Linked DNA regions of Homo sapiens. The protein of the gene in region 1 purifies or fractionates together with the protein of each later gene. This does not show direct contact. Each region holds a gene or a part of one and is shown on either strand. Other genes may lie near its edges.

Evidence for each region.
Region 2: the proteins of KDM6A (region 1) and WDR82 purify together in Homo sapiens (affinity purification with mass spectrometry; 2 studies listed by BioGRID). This does not show direct contact.
Region 3: the proteins of KDM6A (region 1) and PAGR1 purify together in Homo sapiens (affinity purification with mass spectrometry; 5 studies listed by BioGRID and IntAct, with this or other methods). This does not show direct contact.
Region 4: the proteins of KDM6A (region 1) and KMT2C purify together in Homo sapiens (affinity purification with mass spectrometry; 3 studies listed by BioGRID and IntAct, with this or other methods). This does not show direct contact.

What each region holds. Positions count from the first base shown.
Region 1 is NC_000023.11:45,057,554-45,065,832, forward strand, and holds part of KDM6A (lysine-specific demethylase 6A), read left to right. Parts: intron 1-1,452; coding exon 1,453-1,551; intron 1,552-1,693; coding exon 1,694-1,913; intron 1,914-2,468; coding exon 2,469-2,603; intron 2,604-3,055; coding exon 3,056-3,211; intron 3,212-3,770; coding exon 3,771-3,866; intron 3,867-5,093; coding exon 5,094-5,195; intron 5,196-5,868; coding exon 5,869-6,264; intron 6,265-8,279. UniProt on the Homo sapiens protein: Histone demethylase that specifically demethylates 'Lys-27' of histone H3, thereby playing a central role in histone code. Demethylates trimethylated and dimethylated but not monomethylated H3 'Lys-27'.
Region 2 is NC_000003.12:52,260,945-52,269,223, reverse strand, and holds part of WDR82 (WD repeat-containing protein 82), read left to right. Parts: intron 1-862; exon of another isoform or gene 863-946; intron 947-2,205; coding exon 2,206-2,272; intron 2,273-7,744; coding exon 7,745-7,844; intron 7,845-8,279. UniProt on the Homo sapiens protein: Regulatory component of the SET1/COMPASS complex implicated in the tethering of this complex to transcriptional start sites of active genes.
Region 3 is NC_000016.10:29,818,423-29,823,539, forward strand, and holds the end of PAGR1 (PAXIP1-associated glutamate-rich protein 1), read left to right. Parts: intron 1-1,117; exon of another isoform or gene 1,118-1,132; coding exon 1,133-1,332; 3' UTR 1,333-4,067; downstream 4,068-5,117. UniProt on the Homo sapiens protein: Its association with the histone methyltransferase MLL2/MLL3 complex is suggesting a role in epigenetic transcriptional activation. However, in association with PAXIP1/PTIP is proposed to function at least in part independently of the MLL2/MLL3 complex.
Region 4 is NC_000007.14:152,173,452-152,181,730, reverse strand, and holds part of KMT2C (histone-lysine N-methyltransferase 2C), read left to right. Parts: coding exon 1-1,020; intron 1,021-1,604; coding exon 1,605-1,897; intron 1,898-3,720; coding exon 3,721-5,540; intron 5,541-7,488; coding exon 7,489-7,600; intron 7,601-8,279. UniProt on the Homo sapiens protein: Histone methyltransferase that catalyzes methyl group transfer from S-adenosyl-L-methionine to the epsilon-amino group of 'Lys-4' of histone H3 (H3K4).

The DNA.
Region 1 (8,279 bases):
TCTGCCCTACATATTGTTAGAAAATTAATATTCCTATAAAGTGCTTTCAGTGTGCTATTCTGCTTGTTAGAAAAGCAAACTTTAGGGTAATCTTTGGCTGGATTTAAAATTCTCTACTGTTTTGTGTCTGTGCTTTCTTGTATATACATTAGGTTTTGCTCATGCTGTTCAAACCCATTTAAAACGCCTTTTCTCATCTTCTCTGCCCGAATCAGTGGTTCCTAGAATTTTAGGTTACATAAATCAGTAAAATTTCAAAGAATAATTATGAGGATAGAAATATGGTGTTTGGGCAAGTAAAAACATTAACTTTTTTTGCAATTTACTGTCAGCCAATAATATCCAAAATAAGAGAATTACAGCATAAATATTAATTCATTTATTGGAAAAACTTTATGTATGTATATGTGTGTGTTGTCTTTCCAATTTGTTTGCTTGGCAAACGTGCCATATACTGGCTGGCAATTAGGAATCACTAAATAATATGCATCTTTACATATTCAAATCCCTTACTCTTACTCTCCCCCCCCCCCCTTTTTTTTTTTGCCTTTCCTAAATCTTGCAGAATATGATGGTCTCTTCTTATCCTAAATTCTCAGGCCAATTATTGTCTATACTGGCCATTTGATATGACATCATGACATTTTTAATGTATCTTCAGTCCTCAACTAAATTGTAAGCTTCATGAAAATAGGGACTGGGTTTTTGTTTTTTTTCTTTTTCCTTTAGTGCCAAGAATAAGAAGATAATTTCAGTATTTATAATTTCAACTGTTATCTGTGTATCCATCATGTCCATCGTGTATATTCACATTAAGAAAATTACAGTCCTTGAATCGTTAATCTTACCTTGCTAACTTTACTAGTCATAAAATATTATACTTTATATTATTTTTACTTTTTACTTTATACTATTTTTGATACTTAGTTTGAGATTAACTATGTCTTACATGTGCATTTTTTTTATGAATTAAAGAATTATTGCCCTCAGTGTTGTTACTTGGGAAAGGAAAATTGAAATCTGATACAGCAAATCTTACCAACGTATATAGTGTTTTTGTTTTTAACTCTGTATTTTGACCATATAGGAAACTAGAGGTCAAGCTGTATAAGAAGAGTGGAAGAGTGCCGTGTGTGTGTGTGTGCACATGTGCATGCAGCTCTCAGTATTATAATATTGAAGTGATATGTCCCCTAATCATTTTAATAGAGTTCATTAATGCAGCATGCTTTTTAGCACCTATAAGACAGACTATAATATGGTTTGTTGGAGGGCAAATTATAATATTCATTATAGTTAACAAGTATATACATACATACACATAAATATATTAACTTATTAGGGTTTTAAAAAAATTTGCTGTGATATATAGTCCATCCTTTCAGCCGATTAATTTGTTTCAGTATTAATGGAATTCTCTTGATTTTTTTTTTTTTTCCCTTCCCTTCTCAGGTGCTATTCAAGTATTGGGAAAGTTCAGGATGCCTTTATATCTTACAGGCAGTCTATTGATAAATCAGAAGCAAGTGCAGATACATGGTGTTCAATAGGGTAAGCCTTTGTATAAAAATAGTAGTAATTTAATTGATATACAAAGATGGTTGCATCACATATAGTACTTCATAGTTTAAATCATTATAAAACCAAGCAGTTCTTCTGAGTTGACTTATTTTTTCTTAATTTCTCTTTCCAGTGTGCTATATCAGCAGCAAAATCAGCCCATGGATGCTTTACAGGCCTATATTTGTGCTGTACAATTGGACCATGGCCATGCTGCAGCCTGGATGGACCTAGGCACTCTCTATGAATCCTGCAACCAGCCTCAGGATGCCATTAAATGCTACTTAAATGCAACTAGAAGCAAAAGTTGTAGTAATACCTCTGCACTTGCAGCACGAATTAAGTATTTACAGGTAAAATTTTTAAATGGCAGTTTTTTAAAGCCACATATTTCCCCAGAACACTCAGGCAGAAGGAGGGTGGCTGGAAAGTTTGTCTAGTTGTGTTTTGATGTCTATAATCTGTTTCCATATTTTGTAAACATACCATAGCTTGTAATATTATTTTACTTTTCATTTTAAGTAAGATATGCAGTATTTTTAAAGATGCTCTTTTGCACATTTACTCTGTTGATGCATATTAATTTACATAATTTTTTTCTATGTACTGTCTACATTTTTAAGTTGTCATAGCATTTTATAGAAAACACAAACAGTCTTTCACTCTTGCTTGGAGTTTCTTGAGAAGACAGCTATGAGAACTCTGAAAACAGAGCTCAGCTTTGTTTTGATTCTCACAAAGGTTTATATTCCGGTTACCCTGTTTATACTTAGTGTCTTCTAAAGCCCCAAATTTAGAATCTATTTTCTTTTAAAAACAATTAGCTATAGCATTTAGGAAGATTTAGTGGACTTGCTCTTACTCAAGTAGGCTTGTGTTAAATTTGCTTTTTACATAATTTTTCCTAGGCTCAGTTGTGTAACCTTCCACAAGGTAGTCTACAGAATAAAACTAAATTACTTCCTAGTATTGAGGAGGCGTGGAGCCTACCAATTCCCGCAGAGCTTACCTCCAGGCAGGGTGCCATGAACACAGCACAGCAGGTGAGAAGTTGGGTTATGTTCTGCAGGTGCCCAGCTTTAAGGGTTCTTTTCAATTCTCTAGTGGTCAAGCTTAATTTACTAAGCACAGGAGGCTTTTAGTAATGAAAAGCCTTTTGATTTAATTGCAAAGGGAATCTAGATCAAAATAAAATTCCCTCTAATATGGGAAGAGATTTTGGGGTACCAACTTAGAACCTTTGTGCATTTTCATGATTTTGAAGGAGATTTCTTAAAATAATGCTACAGTGGTTTGTTTAATTTTTAAGGCAAGTTTTTCAAAGGAAGGTACACATTATTCCATTGATGAATCATTTAATTTTGATTTTCAATCATTGCAATCAGCGATGTCCACATAGCTTTGAAAAGTATGCAGCTTGTAAAGTTTTATAATTTGAAGGAATGAATTAAGAATATATAGAACCCTATTTTTGTCTTCCTTCTGTGATTCTTAGGCATGTAAACCTCATCATCCAAATACTGAACCTGTATTAGGCCTCAGTCAAACACCAATTTCACAGCAATCCTTGCCACTACACATGATTCCTTCTAGCCAAGTAGATGACCTGTCCAGTCCTGCCAAGAGGAAAAGAACATCTAGTCCAACAAAGGTATATGTTTTAGAGAAATAGAAAATCCCAGTCAAAAAAGAAGTTTCAGCTGCCCTGAAATTGTGCAGTTTGAACATTTCCTGTCCTTTATTTTAAATTTGTGGACATCAAAGAGTGAAAGGTTTGAGTTTTTCCATCCCAAACCCTTAGTATCATATTAAATATAGAAAGTAGGGATAAATTTGCATTCATCAAATCATTTTATTCATCTCCCTGCCGTTAAGATCCCAGCACACTTTTCATCATCACTTTTTACTGACATTGAAATAAATTTAATGTTGGATCTAGTGGACAGTGTGGTGTTTAGGCTAGCCGTTTGGGCCATAGTTTGAGGGTGGGCCTTTTTGGGTGGCTTATTAAATAGTCAGTAATTTTTAAATGTATGATTTCTAAGTTTAATATGCATGTAAAATTATTTTTTAAAGAATTTAATGTTATAACATCTTTTTAACATGTAAATATTCCAATTCATAGTCATTTGGCCTCCTCTAACCATTATTATTAACTGTGGATTTAACCAAATATTCTTTAATTTTTTTTTTAAATCGATTTTCCTCAGAATACTTCTGACAATTGGAGTGGTGGACATGCTGTGTCACATCCTCCAGTACAGCAACAAGCTCATTCATGGTGTTTGACACCACAGAAATTACAGGTATGTAAGATGTTTTTGACAAATTGTTTATTAAAAAGGAGTAGAGGTAGCAAACAAGTATTAATTTTTTTTTTTTTTTTTTTTTTTTTTGAGATAGAGTCTTGCTCTGTCACCCAGGCTGGAGTATAGTGGCACGCTCTTGGCTCACTGCAACCTCCGCGTCCTGTGTTAAAGTTATTCTTGTGCCTCAGCCTCCAGAGTAGCTGGGATTACAGGCACGCACCATCACACCCCGCTAATTTTTATATTTTTGGTAGAGACTGGGTTTCGCCATGTTGGCCAGACTGGTCTTGCACTCCTGACCTCAAGTGATCCACCTACCTCAGCCTCCCAAAGTGCTGAGATTACAGGTGTGAGCCACTGCACCCAGCCCTAAGTATTAATTCTTATAAGTTAAATGGCAGTACATTCAATTAAAATGCACAAAAGTAAAATGAGCCTGCATTTACCAGAATAATGAAGAGCATTCATTCTTGTTTTTAATTTCTTTTTTTTTTTTTAAACAGGACATGGTTTACACTACATAAAGTATAAATATAGGGTATATAGGGTAAAGTTTTCTTCTAACTCTGGCCCCTACCCACTCAAAATGTGGCTGGTATTACTAATTTCCTATCTATCATTCCAGAGGTATGTTATGTATGTACAAGCAAATATACATCCCCCCCTTTCTCACATGTATTATTATTTTTCTTCTTTTTTACACAAATGATAGGATTCTTATTTGCTGTTAACAACATATTTTACAGACTTCTGCATGTCAATATGTGAAGAGCTTCCTTGTTCTTTTATGGTTACATCATATTTCTTTATATAGATGTAACACCTTTATTTAAGCAGATCAGTAATTTTGGACATTCAGGTTGTCTTCAGACTTTGCTTATTCCAGACAGTGCTGCTTTTAGCATACTTGTCAATATATTTTTAAGCTTCAAGAGTTTTCTCTGTGAATACCTAAGAATACTGTATGGATGAGTAAAATTTCATGCCCATCTATTACAAAGAACTCATAGTAAATCTTGTTCAGATGAATGCTTAGTTCATTCTTATATTTCTCAAGCTTATTAAAGGACTTCATCTTGGAGTGTGTGACTGTTGGTCAGAAGACAGTGTGTTTGACCAGATAGTGGTTCTGAGTTTAGTCATTTCAGGGAAAGGTTGCTTAGAATAATGATCTTATTTCCTAAATATATCTTTGACTATATTCTCTTTTTGTTCTTCTTCTAGCATTTGGAACAGCTCCGCGCAAATAGAAATAATTTAAATCCAGCACAGAAACTGATGCTGGAACAGCTGGAAAGTCAGTTTGTCTTAATGCAACAACACCAAGTGTGTATAGCATATTTTTCCCTGAAATTTGTTAGCATTTTGAGTATTTTTATTGACTCTAATGTCATTTTAGAGCATGTTTATGTTCATTTTTACTTTCTACTGGTATTTGACAGAATTTAGTAATCTCTGTATTTTAAAATACTGGTAATTGACGGAGATTTTTAGACAAAAGCAACTATAATTTTGAAGAAGATACTTTGTATTTTATTTATTTACATGATATTTCACATGTATTCTAAGGGTTTGTTTACATTATTTAGTACTGAGGCAAGGTTTTTAGGGCTTATTTAGTTTACAGGATCTGGCATATATGTAACAGAATGAAATTTTGAGATGTCCCCTCTTTTGTGATTGAGAGAAGGACCTATAAGTTCGGGGTCGTTTTCTATAATTTTCAGCTGCTTCCTTTTGTCATTACTAATGGGATTTTTTTTTTTTGAAACCGACTTTTGCTTTTTCAAGGAAGTTTATTTTAAAATGAACAAATACAATTTCTTGTTTTTAAAGTATGTATTTCTCAACTTAGAGAAATTAAGCATTTGGGTAAAATCACACATTCCCTAATTATACATCTTCATATTCATCTGGGGATTCATAGAGAATCCCCTATAGATTCTCTTCCCTATAGATTACACAACCAGCATTTACTTTTCCTTTGTTTTTTTGACAGATGAGACCAACAGGAGTTGCACAGGTACGATCTACTGGAATTCCTAATGGGCCAACAGCTGACTCATCACTGCCTACAAACTCAGTCTCTGGCCAGCAGCCACAGCTTGCTCTGACCAGAGTGCCTAGCGTCTCTCAGCCTGGAGTCCGTCCTGCCTGCCCTGGGCAGCCTTTGGCCAATGGACCCTTTTCTGCAGGCCATGTTCCCTGTAGCACATCAAGAACGCTGGGAAGTACAGACACTATTTTGATAGGCAATAATCATATAACAGGAAGTGGAAGTAATGGAAACGTGCCTTACCTGCAGCGAAACGCACTCACTCTACCTCATAACCGCACAAACCTGACCAGCAGCGCAGAGGAGCCGTGGAAAAACCAACTATCTAACTCCACTCAGGTAATAGGAGGACTAGCTTCCTTGTTGGCTTTTCACATAAATGTTTTTACTGGGTTTTATACACTTTGAGAGAAGAAGAGAGAAGTGTTTGGGGAACTGGTTTTATAAGAATTTTGTGGCACTACAATGTTACTACATTGTGATTCATTATGTACATACATGAGTATATCTTTGTTCCCTTTGTACAGTCTCTACCGACATAGATAACTTAGCAAATTTACAAAGGAAGAAAATAGATCATATAAATCACCCAAAATGCACCATTAATTTACAGTGGCATCATAAGCACATTTATGTAATATTACTTAGTTCATTTCTGCATAAACTGCCTACTTAAGATCAGGCACTAAACTAGGTGTTAGGTATTTGCTTTAGTGGGAGAAAAAGACCAGTGAATAAGTATTTACCATAATGACTGTGAAGTGTGACTTTGGTGGGAAAGTTCTATCAGAGTACCTACGAGAGCACATAACCAAGATGTCAGAGTCTTCCAGAAGCTAGAGTTTAGGGGAGGAGAGGGCTGGTGAAGTGTGCCTAGAAGATAGGTTATGAAGAGGGGAGGGTGAAATAAGAGGCTGAGGGAGAGGCCAAATTTATCTTGAAGGCAAAGTTGATCCACTAAAGTTTTTGAAACAGAGTAATGAATTGCATGCACATTATTTTTGTCAAGGAAATGGGTCATAATGTATTCAACGTTAGCACATTCGTTAGACATTTAATTTCTAAGTTTTTACTTCTGAATGTTTATGTGCATAGTATTTCCCATATTTTGGATTGTTTCCATGATATGGGTACTCGCTGAGGTGAAACTGAAGGGCCAAAGAGTAAGTTTTAAGAAAATGCTCTCAATATGTATAGCCAAATTGCTTGTACTTTTATTAATTTACTATGAGAAATATTTGACTTAAAAAGAGAAATATTTGGCTGATTGTCGGTTAGTCTTATATTATTGATAAAACTGAAATAAGTTCTTTTTCTAAGATTTTTAAGTTTATTCTTGAATTAATATCCTTGGTGGGACCCTGATCTAAAGTGATTAGTACTTTATTCATTCTTAGAGAAATACTGAGTACCTACTAGGTTCATTTCCTACTCAAGGCTCTGGGAATACATCAATAAAGAAAATATACTGAGATGTCTCTACTTGGTGTAGGTAAATAGATAGTAAACAAATAAGCAATACATATATAACATTAGATGATGGTTGTGATTAGTGCTATGGAAAAAAGCACTAATAGAAAGGGAACAGCAGAATACTAGAGATTGGTGGTAGGAGAGTTGCAGTTATAAATCAGAAGGGCAGGGAAGGCTTCTCTGAAAGATAGCATTTGGATGAGAGTTACAGGAGTGAGCCTTGAAGCTATTTGTGATAAGATTGTTCCAGGTCTAGGGAGCAGCACGGAGCAATGGACCCTAAGGTAGGATTGTGCTGTGCACATTTGAGGAGAATCAAGGTGGCAAGCATGGCAGAACAGGACAGGCAAGGAGTGAGAAGAGAGAGAAATGTGCTCCAGCTGGAAACAGGATGGCTAAATCATGATCAGCCTTATAAGGATACTGGATTTTATTCTGAGTATCCAGGAAACCGTAGGGGGATTTTGAACAGAGGAGTGATGTGATCTAACTTTGTTTTTGACTAGGTCCTCTTTGGTACTCTGTGGATAGACTGAAAGAGGCAAAAGTAGAAATGGTATGACCATTTTAGAGATTATACCTGTAATCCAGGTTAAAAGTTGATGATGGCTCCCAGAGTGGTAGTAGTAGATGGTGGTCAGCTTCTGGGTATATTTGGAAGGTACAGCCAACAGGATTAGTTGATATAGAGTGATGTGTGAGAAAGGAGTCCCAGCTGGCCTGACCAACTAGAAGGATGGATGAAACTGGATGGTATCACCAATCAGTGAGAACAGATTGAGAAAAGAACTCAAGATTGAGCCTTAGGGCATTCCAGTGTATTAGGCTAGGAAATTGAAGAACTAGCAGAGAAGAATAGAAGAGATTGACCTGTGACATAG
Region 2 (8,279 bases), on another chromosome or scaffold:
GGATTACAGGTGTGAACCACCACGCCCGGCCAGGATTCTGTTTTTAAACTTATTTCAGTGGATTATTGATGATCATCTCACATTTTGCAGTAAGGTTTTTTTTAGGCCGGTGGCTACATAGTGGCTCATGCCTGTAATCCCAGCACTTAGGGAGGCCTAGGAGAGTGGATCACTTGAGCACAGAAGTTCGAGATTAGCCTGGGCAACTTGGGAAAACCCCGTCTCTACAAAAAATACAAAAATTAGCCAGGTGTGATGGGACGCGCCTGTAGTCCCAGCCACTTGTAAGGCTGAGGTGGGAGGATTGCTTGAGCCCTGGAGGTCTAGGGTGATCACACCACTGCACTCCAACCTGGGTGACAGAGCGAGGCTCCATCTCAAAAAAACAAAAAAGATTTTTCTAATGTCATTCCACAAGGATAGCTTATACTGCTATTTTGGCTGTGCCTATCTCAGAGCAGAATGGGCGGAAGTCCTTTTTTCCATTTTTTTTTTTTTTTAATGAGACTCTTCTGCCTGTATTGATTTTTAGTTAAGTATGTCATTTCTACTTTTCATGCCTGTATTTCAGAAGTGGTTTTCTAAGGAAGCAGTGTAGTTAATGATTTTGGAAAAGAATGTAAAACCTTAGGATCCTGAGGAAACATGTCTATGTGATCATCCGAATGACTGGTTTATTTCTTCTGTTGGGATGTTTTTCTGAGTGATTAAATGAGGATTCTCCAAATGTGGTGCAAGATGAGGCAAATGTGTGGCACTTGTAGCTTTGCTGCCAAGCCTCTGCTGTGAGGATGTTCCCTTTCCTGTCTCAAGTGCATCCTGAAGAGTTCCTCCAGCGCTCCGTTTCCTTTTGCCTGATTCCAGGCTGAGGTAGTAGTTTGTACAGTTTGAGGGTCTATGATACCACCCGGTACAGGAGATAACTGTACAGGCCACTGCCTTGCCAGGAACAGCGCGCCAGCTGCCAAGTGGGGCTGAGAGGATGGCGTCACCCTGCTCATCTCTGGGAAACCAGGTAATGGGGAGGAAGTCTTTTTCTTCTTAGGGCAGGTGAGTCATTGTTAGCAGTAGAATAACTAGAAATACTTCGTAGTTGTCATTCAAGAAGTTTGAAGATGTTTTCAAGGAAAATTGTGTAGTGTTCAAGTTATGGAATATACAAATATCCCTATTCCCCTATTCCCCCTCCCAAGTTAAATGCCCTCTTATTAGAAAGCACCCCTGTGAACCCCTGGGATGACTCGATGCTTTCAACCCCTTTATTCCTATGTTCTGTTTGCCTTCAGAATGTTCTTTCTATGGTTTTCTTTCTGCATTTTGGTACCATTTTCCCTTAGCTGTTTCTCAACAATTTTTCCTTATTCCTAGTCTTTTTAAGGGGATAATACTTTTCTATTTTGCAGTTTTATTCTTTATGGCACTTCATTTCTCTACCGCCACCATGTTTTTTGTTTGTTTACTCTTTCAGATAGAATCATTTGGTTAAGAGTGTCTTATTTTTCCACAAGCACAAATCTCTGATTGTTCCTTTCTTTAATATTGTCAAAATCTCACTGCTATTACTCATTGGTATAAGAATTTGATTTTTTTAATGTCTTAAGATCTTTTTAACCCAGATCTTGACATCACTTCTCTGACGTTTTGTTTATTTTCATTGTAATTTGTGTGTCCAATTGAAGAATGTTCAAATGAGTTGAGGGTGGGTCAACATACTGATGGAGAACTCTAGACAAAAATTGCTGCCAGGGTTCAACCTGATCTTCAGTTTAACTGCCATGGCTGCTCACCTCTTTAAGTCTGTTAGCTCAACAGCCACATATTTTTCTTTAAGGTTTGCCATTCTGTGGACACTAGACCAGTATCTAAAATTATTATGTGTGCTTTACTTGTTTTTGTTTTTTGACCAGGGTATATTTGCAGGGTGGGAGTTGCATTGTAATTATGAAGAAACCAAATTGGTAATAAAAGGTCATTTCAAACATTGCTTTCTATGCTGTCAACTTAAGAACTCTGCTTTTGAGTTAGGTGAAATCTACATACCCACTCTTCAGCTGCAGAGTAGAATTATTCACCATTATTTATTCATGCCTTGCTTGGGATATAGAATACAATGGATTATTTGACCTTGTCTTTTTAAGATGAAAATGTAAAGTAAATTTCTTTTAAATAGTATGATATCATCATACCTTGTTTGTCTTTTTACAGATACTATTCGTTACTTGTCCTTGCATGACAACAAATACATCAGATACTTTCCTGGACATAGCAAAAGGTAAGACCCACGTATTATAGAAGCAGATAGTTCTTTTATCCCTGAGGTTACCCAGAGAATAGAAGGCTAGAGAGAGCTTATTAGTGAACTGAAGCTACTTCCTCACTACTGCTTGGCATTCTTCATCTTCTCTTAAATAGTCAACTCTTGATTTACTGAGGTTATAGAGGTGCAGAGGTAGGTGTTCAGAGATACCTCAGTTAAAATATAACTAGGCCCAGTGCAGTGGCTCACACCTGTAATCCCAGCACTTTGGGAGGCCGCGGCGGGCGGATCACTTGAGGCCGGGAGTTTGAAACCAGCCAGGCCAACGTGTCAAAACCCCATCTCTACTAAAAATACAAAAATTAGCCAGGTATGGTGGTGGACACCTGCAATCCCAGCTACTCGGGAGGCTGAGGCAGGAGAATCGCTTGAACCCAGGAGGCAGAGGTTGCAATGAGCCGAGATCGCGCCACTGCACTCCAGCTTGGGCGACAGAGTGAGACTCCGTCTCAAAGATATATATGTATATATATTTTTTCTAGTTATAGGTATATCTATTTCTAGTTAGATATATATATTTCTAGTTTTATATATACATATAAAACTAGAAAAAATGTGGATTAAAGATATTCAGTGAAAACTTATGTAGTAAAAATTAGATTTGGCATTTAGGAATACCAAATCTCACATATCCCTTAATAAAGGACTGTTTGTGTTTATGAGGCCTTCCAATATATGTGGCCCCCATTTCAGTGGGCCCCTATGTAAAAATGTTCCATTTAAAGATCTTAATGAGAATGCAAAAGAAAGTCCTTTTTTTAAAATCAAGAAGTTTATCTCCTTTTTCTGTATTGTAATGCAGGTTGCTTCTCTCTGTTCTTCACCCCAATGCCCCTAGTTACTTTTTTCTCTAATTTTTCAACTTTTCTTTGAATGTTAAACACGTTTTCCCCTGGATAATATTTTAATCACTTGGGGTATTTTTTCCTGCATCCATTTGCAAATGTACAGTAACCCAGGATGGTTTCGATTGGTATGGAGCCCTGACAGGAGATGGCCTGAGAGCCTCCTGTTAGAAATTGCACTTCCAGGCCAGGCGTGGTGGCTTAATGCCTGTAATCCCAGCTCTTTGGAAGGCTGAGGAGGACAGATTGCTTGAGTGCAGGAGTTCAAAACCAGGCTAGGCAACATGGTGAAACCCTGTCTCTACAAAAAATACAAAAATTAGCCAGGAGTGGTGGTGTGCGCCTGTAATTCCTACTACTTCGGAGGCTCAGGCACGAGAATTGCTTGAACCCGCGAGACAGAGGCTGCATTGAGCCAAGGTGGCGCCACTGCACTCCATCCAGCCTGGGTGACAGAGCAAGACCCTGTCTCAAAAAAAAAAAAAAAAAAAAAAAGTTGCACTTCCAGTTGGGCAGGCCATTTGTGTTGCTGAAATAAAGGTGAAATAAGGTGGCAACCAGTGGTAACTGGTTTCAGACAAAGGATGGCTCATGATAAGTAGATGTTTTGCTTGTTTTTATTCAAATTAATGTTCACAAATGTACTATTTGTAATTAAGAGTTGATGCAGTTGTTTGACGTGCTTTCCAGTCTTCCCAATTATTCAACCTCTTGACCTCCTGATTCTTTTTTTTTTTTTTTTTTTTTTTTTTTTTTTTTTTTGAGACAGAGTCTCGCTCTGTCGCCCAGGCTGGAGTGCAGTGGTGCAATGTTGGCTCACTGCAGGCTCCGCCTCTTGGGTTCACGCCATTCTCCTGCCTCAGCCTCCTGAGTAGCTGGGACCACAGGCACCCGCCACCAAGCCCCGCTAGTTTTTTGTATTTTTAGTAGAGATGGGGTTTTACCGTGTTACCCAGGATGGTCCCTGATCCGCCCGCCTCAGCCTCCCAAAGTGCTGGGATTACAGACGTGAGCCACCGCACCCGGCTGGCCGACCTCCTGATTCTTGATAGATGACTTTGTCCCTCCTTTTATGAGAAAATCAAGGCTATACAAAATGAGTTATTTCAGCTGGGTGTGGTGGTTAAGGCCTGTTATCAGCACTTTGGGAGGCTGAGGTGAGAGGATCGCTTGAGTCTGGGAGGTTGAGGCTGCAGTGAGCCATGATTGTGCCACTGTACTCCAGCCTGGGTGACAAAGCAAGACCGTGTCTCCAAAAAAAAGAGTTCTTTTAAACATCTATCCCTTCCACCTAAATTCTGTCTTCCTTGGAATCCTTTCCTTGAGAAAGCTGTTGTCTTTCTTTCACAAAACAGACCTTCCTCTTTCTGCTTGCTTCCATCTCCTTAATTGGCCTTTCCTTTGTTGCCTACAAATTTACTTGGTCTTTCTTATCTTAAATCTACTTATTGACCCTATCACCCACTCCTTTTCACTATCAAACTTGAAAGAAGAATCTGTACATTCCCATCTCCACCTCCTCACACATGTTCACTGTTGAAATCATTTTTGCACTAGTCCCAGAATCGTCTATGGGGCTTTATCCAAACCTTTATCCTTCATTCCCTGCTGCCTCTAGTTAAAAAGCCACTGGTTTGGGCTTTTCTTGGTGCTTAACCTCTCAGTAAAACTTACTTTCCCGTGGCAGGTGACTTTTCCCATGTCGGTTCTGTTCTTGTAGTTTTCAGCCTCTGTTTTGACTCTAAAATAAACAAATATTTTATCCGCTTTCTTATCTCCATCGCTGATTTCATTTACCTCCATTCAGGTGGCTTCCCAAATCAGTATTTTTAGCTCATGTCTATTATCAGTTTCAGACCCGCCTTCCACCTACAGGTTTTGTTTGTTTTTTTGTTTTTTGAGATGGAGGCTCACCGGGTCACCCAGGCTGGAGTGCAATGGCATGATCTTGGCTCACTGCAACCTCCACCTCCTGAGTTCAAACGATTCTCCTGCCTCAGCCTCCCGAATAGCTGGGATTACAGGCACGCACCATCATGCCCGGCTAATTTTTGTGTTTTTATAGAGACAGGGTTTCACCATGTTGGCCAGGCCGCTGTCAAACTCCTGACCTCAGGTGATCCATCCGCCTCAGCCTCCCAAAGTGCTGGGATTACAGGCATGAGCCACTGCACCCAGCACCACCTACATGTTTTATACACATCTTTGTAGCTGTCTCTTCTGTCCAATACTCTTTCTAATACTCAGGTCCAGTACTCTGTCCATCATTGTTACCTTTTTTGGGCCAGCTTCTCTCTGTCTTCCTCATATTTATTCATCTCTGTCTCTTCCAATTCTGGCTCAAAGCATCTGTTGTTAGTTCACTCTTTTTCCCCTGCCATCATATTCAGTGAGTTGTTAAACTATTTAGTTCTCCCTAGGTTTAACCTCATGTGTCACTTTCCTCTGTGTTCTCTCCTTTGCTTCTGCCCTGGCTCATGCCCTGTGAGGTAAATTATTGTTAGCTCCTAATTAATCTTCCCATCTCTTACCATCCTGTTTCAGCTTCCTGGATTGCAGTTTGATTGCTTCACAATCTCTCTTAATGGTTCTCTATATTTTCATTGCTCCTTCCCCTTGTAGTCAGGTTCTGTCCCTTCTGGCTCTGACCCATTTTCTCAGCATTTTCTCCCACCATTCCCATTAAGGTGAACTCTGGGCTACTTCTTTGAAATCCTTTCTACCTCAGATGTTGTATCTTTCCAGAAGCCTTCTCTGGTCCTCTTGGAGTCATGTGGACTGGACAGTTAAAATTCCTTACGGTCGGGGTCTTACTTCTCCATGTGTTCCCTGTACTTCTCAGCATAGAGTCTTGTGCTGAGCTCTTGGGCTGAATGCCATGGCATAAAATTACATGTCCACAACGTGTTCTGCTCATTCTGATTTTTGTTTTTTGAGACGGTGCCTTGCTCTGTTTCCCAGGCTGGAATGCAGTGGTGTGATCTTGGCTCACTGCAGCCTCCATCTCTGGGGTTCAAGCGATTCTTCCGCCTCAGCCTCTTGAGTAGCTGGGATTACAGGTGTACGCCACCAGGCCTGGCTAATTTTTGTATTTTTATTAGTGGTGGGATTTCACCATGTTGGCCAAGCTGGTCTCAAACTCCTGACCTCAGGTGATCGCCCACCTGGGCCTCCCAAAGTGCTGGGATTACAGGCATGAGCCACCGCACCTGGCCTGCTCATTGTGTTTTATTACCTCCTCAGCATTCTCAGGAAATTTTGGCTTTTAACAATACCTTTTAAAATTTTAACTTGAGGAGCTGGTGCAGATGTTAGTTGAGTTACATTGGAAGAAAATGTTTTTCAGTGAGTGTCTCTTGATGGTATAACCACAAAAGGGAACCAAAAAAGGAATACAGTTGCTGTTAGCATAGGCTTGTGGTTCTCTAGGTGTGGTGCCCAAAACAGCAGCCTCACCCATCACCTGGGGGCTAGTTAGAAACTCAGATTCACAGACCCCAAGTCAGGCCTACTGGATTAGAGGCTCTGGGAGCAGATCCTAGCAGTCTGTTTTAACCCACCCTCCAGGTGATGCTGATGCCACTTAGGTTTGAGAATATCTGTGTAGTCCTCACACATCTTGATAAGGAATCATGCTTTTTTGTGTTTTTTTAATTGAGATACAGTCTACATACTGTAAATGATTCCTTTAAAAATGTACAGTTCAGTGGTTTTTACTATATTTGCAAAGTTGGACAACTATCACCATCATCTAACTTCAGAACATTTTTATCACTCCAAAGAGAAACTCTGTACCCATTAGTAATCACTCCCTCAGCCCCTACCAACTGCTGATCTACTTCTGTCTTTATAGATTTGCCTATTCTAGACATTTTGTGTAAATGGATCAGTTCATATCTGATCTTTTGTGCCTGGCTTCTTTTACTTAGCATGGTGTTCCCAAGGTTCCTCCATGTTGTCACATGAGGCAGTACTTTATTACTTTTTATTGCCAAATAATGTTCCAGTGTATAGATACAGCACATTTTGTTTGTCCATCCATTAGTTAATGGACCATTTGGGTTATTTCTACTTTTTGGCTGTTATGAATAGTGCAGATCTGAACATATGTGTACATTTTTGTGTGGACATATATTTTCAGTTATCTTGGGTAAATACCTAGGAGTGGAGTTTCTGGGTCACGTGGTAACTTTTTTTGGAAAAACTTTTCCAAAGCAACTGTACCATTTTTACATTTCCATTAGCAATGTATGAGGGTTCCAATTTCTCTGCATCCTCACCAACACTTGTTATCTCTCTTATTATAGCTATGCTAGAGGGTGTGGAGTAGTATTTCATTGTGGTTTTGATTTGCATTGGAATCATATATTTTTATTTTGTAGCTTTAAATTTTTTTTTTTATACTAGTTGCCTTTGTTTGTTCCAGATATGGTTGTGGTATGTGTGTTTTATTGTGTTTCTTAAAATGGCAATTTTGGGAGAACAGGTATATATATGTATAGATAGGCAGAGTGGTTTAGAATTCACATCCAATTTTTGCTAATATTTCGCATCAACTCCTATTTATCTCGATGTATTGCAGGGTGGTGGCCTTGTCCATGTCACCTGTGGATGACACTTTCATTTCTGGGTCTCTTGATAAGACCATTCGACTCTGGGATCTCCGGTCTCCTAACTGCCAGGTAATGGTACCTCACAGTTATACTTTTTGAGCATTTTCTTTGGTAGGCACTGTAATGAACTCTACCTCTCAAAGAAGGGAGAAAACAGTGGTTCCATTCTGGGATCACAGGGTCTTTTTAAACTTTGGAGAAAATCTGTTTTTTTAGTTGGTAGCTGCTAAGCACATACCCTAATCTAGTGCAGATTGCATTGTACTCTGTGGCTTAATTGTTGTGGGTTTTTTGTTGTTTTGTTTTGTTTTTGTTTTTGTTTTGAGACAGGGTTTCGCTCTTGTTGCCCAGGCTGGAGTGCAATGGTGCAATCTCAGCTCACCGCAACCTCCACCTCCAGGGTTCAAGCGATTCTTCTGCCTCAGCCTCCCAAGTAGCTGGGATTACAGTCATGCACCACCATGTCTGGCTAATTTTGTATTTTTAGTAGAGACGGGGTTTCTC
Region 3 (5,117 bases), on another chromosome or scaffold:
ACCTCTGCTAGTCTCCACTTTCAATACCACATCCCCATCCAAGCCACTGTCTTTCTTGCCTGGATAGTTGTAGTAGCTCCTAACTGGGCTCTCTGCTTCCAGCTTCTGCAATTCAGATGAACCTTTTAAAACATAAATCATATCACTTTTTTTTTCTTTGAGACGAAGTCTTTCTCTTGCTCAGGCTGGAGTGCAGTGGCATGATCTTGGCTCACTGCAATCTCCACCTCCTGGGTTGAAGCGATTCTCCTACCTCAGTCTCCTGAGTAGCTGGGATTACAAGGACACGTCACCACGCCTAGCTAATTTTTGTATTTTCTAGTAGAGAGGGGGTTTCGCCATGTTGGCGAGGCTGGTCTTGAACTCCTGACCTAAAGCTTCCCAAAGTGCCTGCCTCAGCTTCCCAAAGTGCTGGAATTACAGGCGTGAGCTGCTGCACTCAGCCATAAATCGTGTCACTTTTCCACTTAAAATTTTCCAAGGGATTCCATCTTGCCAGGGAAGAGCATGTCAAAGGAGAATCCAAGCGCTTTTCCCGCCACCTCCAGTTCTCTGCACTCTTTTTTTTGTTTTTGTTTTTGGCGAGTAGGGGAGACGGAGTGTAGCTGTGTCACCGAGGCTGGAGTGCAGTAGTGCGATCTTGGCTCATTGCAACCTCCACCTCCCGGGTTCAAGCGATTCTTCTGCCTCAGCCTCCCAAGTAGCTGGGATTACAGGCGCCCACCACCACGCCCAGCTAATTTTTTGTGTTGGCCAGGCTGGTCTCAAACTCCTGACCTCGTGAGTTGCCCACCTCAGCCTCCCAAAGTGCTGGCATTACAAGCGTGAACCACCATGCCCGGCCTGCACTCTTCTTTGAACAGAACTCTGTTCTTGTCCTGGGGCCTCTACCCTTGCCATTCCCCTGCCCAGTATGTTCCTCCCTGTTCTTCACATTACCTGTGCCTTCCTGTCAATCAAGATCTTTGCTTCTCACCCTCTCTGAGGTCCAACCCTGAACCTCAGGTCCTCCAAGACAGAGGCCTGGGGACCTGCATGTTTAACCAGCTCCCCAAGTGATGAGTGAGGTCCAGGCAGGTATGGTGTACACCACCTCCATCCCTTCCATGTATCTTACCTTCCTCTTCTCCAGGAAGCTCAGCCCGGAGCCAGAAACGGGAGGCCCGCCTGGACAAGGTGCTGTCGGACATGAAGAGACACAAGAAGCTGGAGGAGCAGATCCTTCGTACCGGGAGGGACCTCTTCAGCCTGGACTCGGAGGACCCCAGCCCCGCCAGCCCCCCACTCCGATCCTCCGGGAGTAGTCTCTTCCCTCGGCAGCGGAAATACTGATTCCCACTGCTCCTGCCTCTAGGGTGCAGTGTCCGTACCTGCTGGAGCCTGGGCCCTCCTTCCCCAGCCCAGACATTGAGAAACTTGGGAAGAAGAGAGAAACCTCAAGCTCCCAAACAGCACGTTGCGGGAAAGAGGAAGAGAGAGTGTGAGTGTGTGTGTGTGTTTTTTCTATTGAACACCTGTAGAGTGTGTGTGTGTGTTTTCTATTGAACACCTATAGAGAGAGTGTGTGTGTTTTCTATTGAACATCTATATAGAGAGAGTGTGTGAGTGTGTGTTTTCTATTGAACACCTATTCAGAGACCTGGACTGAATTTTCTGAGTCTGAAATAAAAGATGCAGAGCTATCATCTCTTAAAAGGAGGGGCTGTAGCTGTAGCTCAACAGTTAGGCCCCACTTGAAGGGAGAGGCAGAATTGTACTCACCCAGATTGGAAAATGAAAGCCAGATGGGTAGAGGTGCCCTCAGTTAGCACCTGTCCCATCTCGGGCCCTCCAACTCCTCCCAGTCCCACTCCAGTGCAGCCAGCTGGCTCCAAGGTAGAAACCCATGAGCACTCAGGGAGCAGTGTGCCTTCAGCTGCAGCAGAAGCAGCCCGGAGGATAAAATGAGAACCAGCTGCACACGGGCCCTTTAACTCCCAAGCCCCACCCCTGGGCTTGGCCTGCCTTGCCCTGCCGGGAAGTGATCCCCAAGGCAGGGTGAGAGTTCCCCATCTGAGGCGTTTGTTGCAGCTACCTGCACTTCTAGATGTGAGTACATTGTACTAGCCCCCCAAACCCCAAATCAGGGGCAGATCTTTGTATCCCTTGAGGCTCTCTTTAGTCCTGTCTTGCTTTGAAGGGCCTTGCTTCTGCTGGGGCAGGGAAAACATGTCTGAATCAGAGTGGGGAAGGAGGATGGGTGGTGGCTTTGCTTTTGGAGGTTTCACTTTCCAATAGTTGGGAGTCTTCTGGGTTTTGAAGTAAAGGCAGATTAACACCAACACCGGTCCCCCACCCCCCTGCAACTCTCAGGCCTCTCTCTGACTTCAGGGTCCCACCTGGGAAATCAGGTGGGGAACCTTACAGGGTCATTCAGACCCCATCTTAGCCCTAGATCGGTGCTTGCTCTACTCACCTGCACTGTCCTGGGGACCTGGGCTCTGGCCTGTCACCTTGAGCTCCAAGAATGTGACCTGTACCCATTCAGGCCCCTTAACTCTGACAGATGAGGGTTTCTTACTCCTCCATGCAGGGCTGGGCCAGCTGTTGGTCTCAGTCGATCATTCAGGAAGTCATTAGCAGAGTGATTTCCAGAAGGCGTAGAATTTAGTGACCAAGGTTCTTTCCTTTTTGGGAGGAGAAAGTGAAAACTAGGATGCTCAGCTGGACCCACCAGCCTGAGATTCTGGGGATTTTAGAGCTGTCCCTTGGGGAGCCAAGCACTTGGGGGTGGAGGTGATAGCGAGGCTGATGGCCCCTGTGTTCTCAGCTCTCTGCCTGGGTAGCCCCTGGGTGATGGGGGAGAGGCCAGCTGTCACGTGGGGTATCAGGTGGCTCTGCCAGAAACTCCCTTGGCACACAGAGCACTGGGTCGGCCCTCGGGTGTGGCTGTTTGGGCAGGACAGCCCTCTGTATGTAGCCTTGAGCAGGTAGGGGGGCCACCTTGAGTGGGTGGCCCAGAGACAGCCTCAGGGCTCCAAGGTAACGGGGTGCTCAGGTTATCTTGGGTGCTGCCCTCCCAGGTTCTGGGGGAGCAGAGGCTGGGCGCTGGCCCAACTTACAGGAAACACTCACCTTTGAACTGCCATTAGCACCATCTGGGCAGTACACAGCCCCACCCAGGTCCTCTAGTTCTTGTTCTCGGCTTAGAATCTTTGTGTTTCTGCCTGAGAAGCCACTGCCTCCTAGTTTGTGGTCTCTACAGTTATAGCCAGGTTGGACTTCCGGCTCCGTCCTTTGATAACTGTGTGCTCTTGGGCAAATTTCTTAACTTGCAGGTTCTTGTGAGGATAACATGAGTTAATTGAGGGCACTTAACACTACCTGGCACAGATTAAGCTCATCTGAAGTGGGAGCTGTTACTTAGGGGCGTTTGCCTAGAACACAGGGTCCAGAGGCTCTCTCCCGGAAACTTAGACCCAGTGAGTCAGAAGTGAGGCCTGCAAAAAGCAGCAGGAGTGGGGTTAAGAATTCCAGCCTAGGGCTGGATGCGGTGGCTCAGGCCTGTAATCCCAGTACTTTGGGAGGCCCGAATGGGAGGATGGCTTGAGGCCAGGAGTTCCAGACCAGCCTGAGCAACATAGCGAGACCCTGTCTCTGTTTGTGTGTGTGTGGTTGGGGTTTTGTTTTTTTTTTTTTTTTAAAGAATTATAGCTCAGTCCTATGATTAGGCAAGTTGAGAAAATATTGATGAAGATCAGGGGTGCTGAAGCCTGGTTCCTGGGGTCGCTTCTGATCTAGGCGGTTCTTGCCTCTGGTGACTGGTGTTAATTGGCAGGAGTGGGAGGAGGGAGGACAAGTGGAAGTCTAGGCTGGCTGAGCTGTTCTGTCTCGAAAAGTTCCTAAAACTGTGCTGCTTTAAAAAAAAAAAAAGTAATTTATGAGACACATTCTCAATTTCCATTAATCATCTCCTAAAGGGGGTAAACCAGGAAGCCGCTGGGTGAAAACAGGCTGTTGGCAATTCCTGAGTCATGTGACCCATTCTCTAAAGACTAGAATATTTAACTTAAATCAGTGAGAAACTCTGTGAAGTTGTGTCCTTGTTTATACCAAACTTCATGTGCCTTTTCCTGAACCTGAAGCTGTGGGAAGGTCTGGGGGCAGGGCCGCATCACCGACCTTACGTCCAACCTCAGGACTGCCTGGAGCAAGAGCCCTGGGGTTGGGGACAAAGGAGGCTGCCTGGACCTGGGTAAGGGAAGGGGCTGGAGGAGAATGAGTGCAATTCCCTGCCCTTCACAGCCTGCAATCGGAGCTGTGTTTTTGTTTTTGAGACAGAGTCTCGCTCTGTCCCCCAGGCCAGAGTACAATGGCGCAATCTCGACTCACTGCAACCTCTGCATCCCTGGTTCAAGCAATTCTCCTGCCTCAGCCTCCCGAGTAGCTGAGACTACAGTTGCCTGCCACCATGTACGGCTAATTTTTGTATTTTTAGTAGAGACGAAGTTTCACCATGTTGGCCAGGCTGGTCTCGAACTCCTGAGCTCAGGCAATCCGCCTGCCTTGGCCTCCCAAAGTGCTGGGATTACAGCCACTGCGCCCGGCCTGAAACTGATCTTTATCCTCCTCCCAGTTCCTACTGTGCACCAGAGACCCTCCAGTCTCTAATACCTTTGACTTGAAGAGCAGTCATTTTTTTTTCCTTTTCTTTTCTTTTCTTTTTTTTTTTTTTTTTTTTGAGATGGCCTCACTCTTGCCCAGGCTAGAGCGCACTCGTGTGCTCCATTTACGGCTCACTGCAGCCTTGACCTCCCAGGCACAGGCGATCCTCCCACCTCAGCCTCCAAAGTAGCAGGGACCACAGGTGTGCACCACCACACCTAGCTAATATTTTTTATGGTTTTTATAGAGACAGGGTCTCCCTATGTTGCCCAGGCTGGTCTTGAACTCCTGGCCTCAAGTGATCCTCCCATCTTGGTCTCCCAAAGTGCTGGGATTACAGGTGGGAGCCACCAAGCCTAGTCAACAGTCACTTTTATTCTCACTTCACTGGAGAGGAAGGCTCAGAGGCTAGTAAGTGGCCCAGGAGCATGCTGGCAGTGATAAAACCTGCTGGAGTGACATTTTCCCACTGG
Region 4 (8,279 bases), on another chromosome or scaffold:
AAGACTCCAATGCAACCTCCTCCATCCTCTCAGGATCCTTATGGATCAGTGTCACAGGCATCAAGGCGATTGTCTGTTGACCCTTATGAAAGGCCTGCTTTGACACCAAGACCTATAGATAATTTTTCTCATAATCAGTCAAATGATCCATATAGTCAGCCTCCCCTTACCCCACATCCAGCAGTGAATGAATCTTTTGCCCATCCTTCAAGGGCTTTTTCCCAGCCTGGAACCATATCAAGGCCAACATCTCAGGACCCATACTCCCAACCCCCAGGAACTCCACGACCTGTTGTAGATTCTTATTCCCAATCTTCAGGAACAGCTAGGTCCAATACAGACCCTTACTCTCAACCTCCTGGAACTCCCCGGCCTACTACTGTTGACCCATATAGTCAGCAGCCCCAAACCCCAAGACCATCTACACAAACTGACTTGTTTGTTACACCTGTAACAAATCAGAGGCATTCTGATCCATATGCTCATCCTCCTGGAACACCAAGACCTGGAATTTCTGTCCCTTACTCTCAGCCACCAGCAACACCAAGGCCAAGGATTTCAGAGGGTTTTACTAGGTCCTCAATGACAAGACCAGTCCTCATGCCAAATCAGGATCCTTTCCTGCAAGCAGCACAAAACCGAGGACCAGCTTTACCTGGCCCGTTGGTAAGGCCACCTGATACATGTTCCCAGACACCTAGGCCCCCTGGACCTGGTCTTTCAGACACATTTAGCCGTGTTTCCCCATCTGCTGCCCGTGATCCCTATGATCAGTCTCCAATGACTCCAAGATCTCAGTCTGACTCTTTTGGAACAAGTCAAACTGCCCATGATGTTGCTGATCAGCCAAGGCCTGGATCAGAGGGGAGCTTCTGTGCATCTTCAAACTCTCCAATGCACTCCCAAGGCCAGCAGTTCTCTGGTGTCTCCCAACTTCCTGGACCTGTGCCAACTTCAGGAGTAACTGATACACAGAATACTGTAAATATGGCCCAAGCAGATACAGAGAAATTGAGACAGGTAAACACATTGTATGTTCTCAGTTTTAAATGTATTATTTGAGGAAGCTGTTCATTTCATCAAACTGAGTAATTTCTACACAGGAGTTAATGTTTTATTTTTTTTATTCTGTAGAGTTTGTCATACTGCAAAAAAGAAAAATGAAATTGATGAAATTAACACCAGTTTAATTTATTCTGTATCTGATTTCAGTTTTCACGAATTCGCAGGGGAATCCTTAAATATTAAAGCTTTGTTTTGTGATAGTTGTCTGGCAAGGAAAAGGACCCAAATCATCAAATTATTTTTCCTAATATATTGAATAGTTAAATGTAACTGGTATTTCATCAAACTTTGAAACATTACCATAGCCACATAATGAAAGTATCAGGATTTAAAAAGCCACTAACCTGTCAGGCACGGTGGCGCATGCTTGTAATCCCAGCTACTTGAGAGGCTGAGACAGGAGGATCACTTGAGTCCAGGAATTTGAGGCCAGCCTGGGCAACATAGCAAGATCCCATATCTAAAAATAAAAAGCCAGTAACCTTTAAAAAGCCATTAATTACCACAAATCCCAGTGATTTTTGTTTCTTCCCATTTAGCGGCAGAAGTTACGTGAAATCATTCTCCAGCAGCAACAGCAGAAGAAGATTGCAGGTCGACAGGAGAAGGGGTCACAGGACTCACCCGCAGTGCCTCATCCAGGGCCTCTTCAACACTGGCAACCAGAGAATGTTAACCAGGCTTTCACCAGACCCCCACCTCCCTATCCTGGGAACATTAGGTCTCCTGTTGCCCCTCCTTTAGGACCTAGATATGCTGTTTTCCCAAAAGATCAGCGTGGACCCTATCCTCCTGATGTTGCTAGTATGGGGATGAGACCTCATGGATTTAGGTAATGCTTTTAATTTCCTGCCGAATTTAAATTGCTATTAGAAGAGGGAAACAGAGCTGGGTGTGGTGGCTTGTGCCTGTAATCCTAGCTACTAGCTGAGGCAGGAGGATTGCTTGAGGCTAGGAGTTTGAGACCAGCCTGGGCAATATAGTGAGACCACCCCCCCCCCCCCCCAACCTCTTCAACAAATTTAAAAATTTTTTAAAAGAAATAGACAAATGAAGTTAGTATTAATCAGGAAGCTGTTACTGCTTTCTACTTCTTTCTCCCCTTTGAAATATATATAATCTGCTATTTAGTGCTAATGAGAGGTCATAGACATTTTTTTCCTCTAAGAACTCTACAGACTCTGAAAACATTACCTTTGTTTTTAAGTATTAACTGTGTTAGCATTACCTTGCACCCTTAATGATGCAGTTTATCATATGACATCCTCAAAATGTAGCTATTCTGCGTAGGCAAAGCCTCCTACGATGTGATGAGACTTGTCCTCTCTCCAAATTTCTACCTTTTAACTTTACATTCTAAATTAATTTTAGGCTGGGCGCAGTGGCTCAGGCCTGTAATCCCAATACTTTGGGAGGCCGAGGTGGGCGGATCACTTGAGGTCAGGAGTTCGAGACCAACCTGGCCAACATGGTAAAACCCTGCCTCTAGTAAAAATACAAAAATTGGCCGGCTATGGCGGCAGGCACTGCACCTGTATTCGCGGCTACTCAGGAGGCTGAGACAAAAGGATCACTTGAACCCAGGAGGTGGAGGTTGCAGTGAGCCGAGGTCACGCCACTGCACTCCAGCCTGGGAGACAGAACGAGACTCTGTCTCAATTTAAAAAATAATAATAATAAATTTTAGAGATTTCCGAACTGAAAGGACTTTCCCTTTAGGAACTTTCCATGGTGAGATAGGGTTGTAAGTTAGTGGTGATGAATCATAAGAATGTTTCCTTTTTCAAAGTGGCTAAAGTCAAAGCCAAACCTATGCCCTAGTTATAATAAGGAAATAGTTCTTTAAGATATGCTTTTTAGTTTTATGTCTTTTAGTCTTATATCTCTACCTCCATGTTATATTCTTTTAGTTTCCTTTTCTTCTACCTTAGTTGTAATTTATGCCTCTTTCTGCATTTTATATTTTGTGTAAGTTGCCTGTAATCTTACTCTTAATTTCCCTTTTTTCTTCCACCTTGTTATAATTTATGCCTCTTGCTATGCTTTGTATTCTGTGTAAGTTGCCTGTAATCCTGTCTAGAAGGAAGTACAATATAAAATAGTCCAACAATTTATACATTTACTTAATCTTTATAGATGAGGCCTACTTGTCCTTTTCTCTAAGTTTATTCTATCCCATCATCAAACCTGTGCCTTTGTAGTCTCATGTACTGAGGCCTGTAAGTCCCTCAATAGGTATGAAGACCTATCTTCATTCAAACATCATCCCCGAATCAGCTTCCTCCATCGAACCTCCCTAAATATAGATAAAAGAAACTCTTCCTGAAAAAGTCCAGTAGTATTGTTCTTATCTCTGAACAATTGATTTCATCTGCTTGGTTGTTCTTCCTTTGTCTTCATTTTTGTTATCTGTTAAATCTTAAGCCTTTAGAGCTCAGATATGGTGTTCATTATAGGATTCTTAGCAAAATCTTACTTGCATATGAATACTGTAAATACTTTTTAATGGTGATAGCTTTGCTTTTGTAAGTCATAGTATTTGGCAACATTTTGTATGTACAGTTTAATTGAAGACTTTTCTTTTTTTCAACTTAACTCTAAATTTAACATAATACCTATTTGCTTTTTTTTTTTTTTTTTTTTTTTTTTTAAAAGATTTGGATTTCCAGGAGGTAGTCATGGTACCATGCCGAGTCAAGAGCGCTTCCTTGTGCCTCCTCAGCAAATACAGGGATCTGGAGTTTCTCCACAGCTAAGAAGATCAGTATCTGTAGATATGCCTAGGCCTTTAAATAACTCACAAATGAATAATCCAGTTGGACTTCCTCAGCATTTTTCACCACAGAGCTTGCCAGTTCAGCAGCACAACATACTGGGCCAAGCATATATTGAACTGAGACATAGGGCTCCTGACGGAAGGCAACGGCTGCCTTTCAGTGCTCCACCTGGCAGCGTTGTAGAGGCATCTTCTAATCTGAGACATGGAAACTTCATTCCCCGGCCAGACTTTCCGGGCCCTAGACACACAGACCCCATGCGACGACCTCCCCAGGGTCTACCTAATCAGCTACCTGTGCACCCAGATTTGGAACAAGTGCCACCATCTCAACAAGAGCAAGGTCATTCTGTCCATTCATCTTCTATGGTCATGAGGACTCTGAACCATCCACTAGGTGGTGAATTTTCAGAAGCTCCTTTGTCAACATCTGTACCGTCTGAAACAACGTCTGATAATTTACAGATAACCACCCAGCCTTCTGATGGTCTAGAGGAAAAACTTGATTCTGATGACCCTTCTGTGAAGGAACTGGATGTTAAAGACCTTGAGGGGGTTGAAGTCAAAGACTTAGATGATGAAGATCTTGAAAACTTAAATTTAGATACAGAGGATGGCAAGGTAGTTGAATTGGATACTTTAGATAATTTGGAAACTAATGATCCCAACCTGGATGACCTCTTAAGGTCAGGAGAGTTTGATATCATTGCATATACAGATCCAGAACTTGACATGGGAGATAAGAAAAGCATGTTTAATGAGGAACTAGACCTTCCAATTGATGATAAGTTAGATAATCAGTGTGTATCTGTTGAACCAAAAAAAAAGGAACAAGAAAACAAAACTCTGGTTCTCTCTGATAAACATTCACCACAGAAAAAATCCACTGTTACCAATGAGGTAAAAACGGAAGTACTGTCTCCAAATTCTAAGGTGGAATCCAAATGTGAAACTGAAAAAAATGATGAGAATAAAGATAATGTTGACACTCCTTGCTCACAGGCTTCTGCTCACTCAGACCTAAATGATGGAGAAAAGACTTCTTTGCATCCTTGTGATCCAGATCTATTTGAGAAAAGAACCAATCGAGAAACTGCTGGCCCCAGTGCAAATGTCATTCAGGCATCCACTCAACTACCTGCTCAAGATGTAATAAACTCTTGTGGCATAACTGGATCAACTCCAGTTCTCTCAAGTTTACTTGCTAATGAGAAATCTGATAATTCAGACATTAGGCCATCGGGGTCTCCACCACCACCAACTCTGCCGGCCTCCCCATCCAATCATGTGTCAAGTTTGCCTCCTTTCATAGCACCGCCTGGCCGTGTTTTGGATAATGCCATGAATTCTAATGTGACAGTAGTCTCTAGGGTAAACCATGTTTTTTCTCAGGGTGTGCAGGTAAACCCAGGGCTCATTCCAGGTCAATCAACAGTTAACCACAGTCTGGGGACAGGAAAACCTGCAACTCAAACTGGGCCTCAAACAAGTCAGTCTGGTACCAGTAGCATGTCTGGACCCCAACAGCTAATGATTCCTCAAACATTAGCACAGCAGAATAGAGAGAGGCCCCTTCTTCTAGAAGAACAGCCTCTACTTCTACAGGATCTTTTGGATCAAGAAAGGCAAGAACAGCAGCAGCAAAGACAGATGCAAGCCATGATTCGTCAGCGATCAGAACCGTTCTTCCCTAATATTGGTAGGAGTTTTCTTGAGTCTCAACGTATATTACTATGGGTATTAGAGTGGCATGCGATATGCTTATAAGATTTTATTATTAGAATTACAGTTGGAATAAAGCACTGAGTTTTTCTATTCCTCCTTGAGGAGTTTGTTTGTTTTGTTTTGAGACGGAGTCTCACTGTGTCACCCAAGATGGAGTGCAGTGGCGCGATCTCGGCTCACAGCAACCTCCACCTCCTGGGTTCAAGTGATTCTCCTGCCTCAGCCTCCCGAGTAGCTGGGACTACAGACACGTGCCACCATGCCTGGCCAATTTTTGTATTTTTAGTAGAGGTGCGGGGTTTCACCATGTTGGCCAGGCTGGTCTCAAACTCCTGACCTCAGGTGATCCGCCTGCTTTGGCCTCCCAAAGTGCTGGGATTACAGGCGTGAGCCACCCTGCTTGGCCCTCCTTGAGCTTTAGAATGAAAGCAGTTGGCTGGGCACAGTGGCTCACGGCTGTAATCCTAGCACTTTGGGAGACCGAGGCAGACAGATTGCCTCAGCTCAGGAGTTCCAGACCAACCTGGGCAACACAGGACATGGATGAAGCTGGAAACCATCATTCTCAGCAAACTAATGCAGGAACAGAAAACCATACACTGCATGTTCTCACTCATAAGTGGGAGTTGAACAGTGAGAACACATGGACACAGGGAGGGGAACATCACACACTGGAACCTGTCGGGGGTGGGGGGCTAGGGGACGGATAGCATTAGGAGAAATACCTAATGTAGATGACGGGTTGATGGGTGCAGCAAACCACCATGACATATGTATACCTATGTAACCAGCATATTCTGCACAAGTATCCCAGAATTTAAAGTATAATAATTAAAAAAAAATAACAAAAAATTAGCTGGGCATAGCAGCGTGCGCCTGTAGTCCCAGTTATTCGGGAGACAGAGGCAGGAGAATGGTGTGAACCCAGGAGGCGGAAGTTGCAGTGAGGCGAGATCGCACCATTGCACTCCAGCCTGGGGGACAGAGTGAGACTCTGTCTCAAAAAAAAAAAAATGAAAACAACGAAGAGTTTTAGATTCTTTCCAGGTAAATTAAGAGATTCAAAACTGAGTTACAAACTTCCCTCAATTCTATTATTTATGGAATTGTTTAATAGAAACTAATTGTCTTCTTAGTTCCTACATTCCAACCATTGTTGCCATATGTTTTCAGTCATGGAAGGATGAATTTAAGAAAATTATGATGGAAATAAAGCTTCTTACTGTCCTTTTGTGTATGACAAATGCTTGGCGATTTTTTGCTATATAAACCTCTTTAACTTGTTTCTAATGGTTTACTGATTCTAAAAACAACAAAAGCAATGCAGTCAAAATGCCTCAGTGCCTCTAAGAATAAGAATTAGCAATCAAAGGGCACGTGTCTAAGCAGTGTGCCTTATTCTAAATAATAAAATTGACATTCCATTTTATATATCCCCAATTTCATCATTTTGCTCCCTTTTTTTCATTTAGATGCAAATAGGTTTTTTCGTAGTAGCTTCTTATTGAGAGGTTATACCCTTAAGAAATTGGTGCATTTTTCTTTTAAGAGTGATAACTAATTTAGTAGAATTCCTTAGTATTGCAAATTCTTATTTGTGATGTTATATTTACTAAAGAAGCCATTCTGATTAGCATTGCAAAAGTTTGGATGAAAGGAAATTAATTGCATTGCTTTAGATTATTGCTTATAATCTCCCTTAAACTTGACTTTTTGTTTTAATTCCTGCAGGACTAAGGTATTAAAGCATGATTCAGTTAAGGACTACTGAGATGCGATTAAACCCAGGATAAGGTTGCCATCTCAGAAATCTGTAATGATTATTAAATAATAAAATTTAAGAGCTTGTAATATTTGAATTACTTCTTAGTGTACGTTGAACTAATTACTATGAAATAAGTAACTTTATATTTCTTTTCTAGATTTTGATGCAATTACAGATCCTATAATGAAAGCCAAAATGGTGGCCCTTAAAGGTATAAATAAAGTGATGGCACAAAACAATCTGGGCATGCCACCAATGGTGATGAGCAGGTAGGTGGAGTGGCTGCTTGTTTCTACTGGGCATCTAGACATTCATGAAATCATTACTAGTTTTTAGAAAAAACATACAGAAAATGGAAAGCCCTTGTCTAGGAATGAACAACACTATTTAAGTTGTCATGGCATCAGCTCGATATGATCAGATACAAAATGCTATACCAATTTAAGAAATTAGTGTAAGAACCAGTTTAAGAGCATTAGTCTCAAGGATGGTAAATGTAAAACATCTTAAAAAGATTTGGAAGATTGGATTTCCTGATTACTCAAGTCAAAGTATTTAGGTCTGTGCTCTTTTAAATACCTTTAGAATTGTTCATGTTATCTAAGATTTTTTTCAGTTAAGACACTGAGTGATTAAAGCAATTATAAATTCAGTTCTAAAATAAAATGTTCCCAAACCGGTTTTGAATCAGAAAAAGAAAGTTACAAGGAATAGATAAGAGGACAGTTGGAAGTTGGAGTTACAGAGTTTGTCTTTTCTCTCTTAGGAGAAAAACAGAAATTACGCATTAAAGAAGACAGTAGGGGTTATTTCAATATCTGAATTTTTGAAATTATGCCCTCTAAGGGTTGTTAACCACATGGCACTGTTTCTTAAATTTTGATCATGGACCACCATGAGAATTATGGGGTAATTTTTTTAAAATGCAGATTATTTTGCTCTACTGCA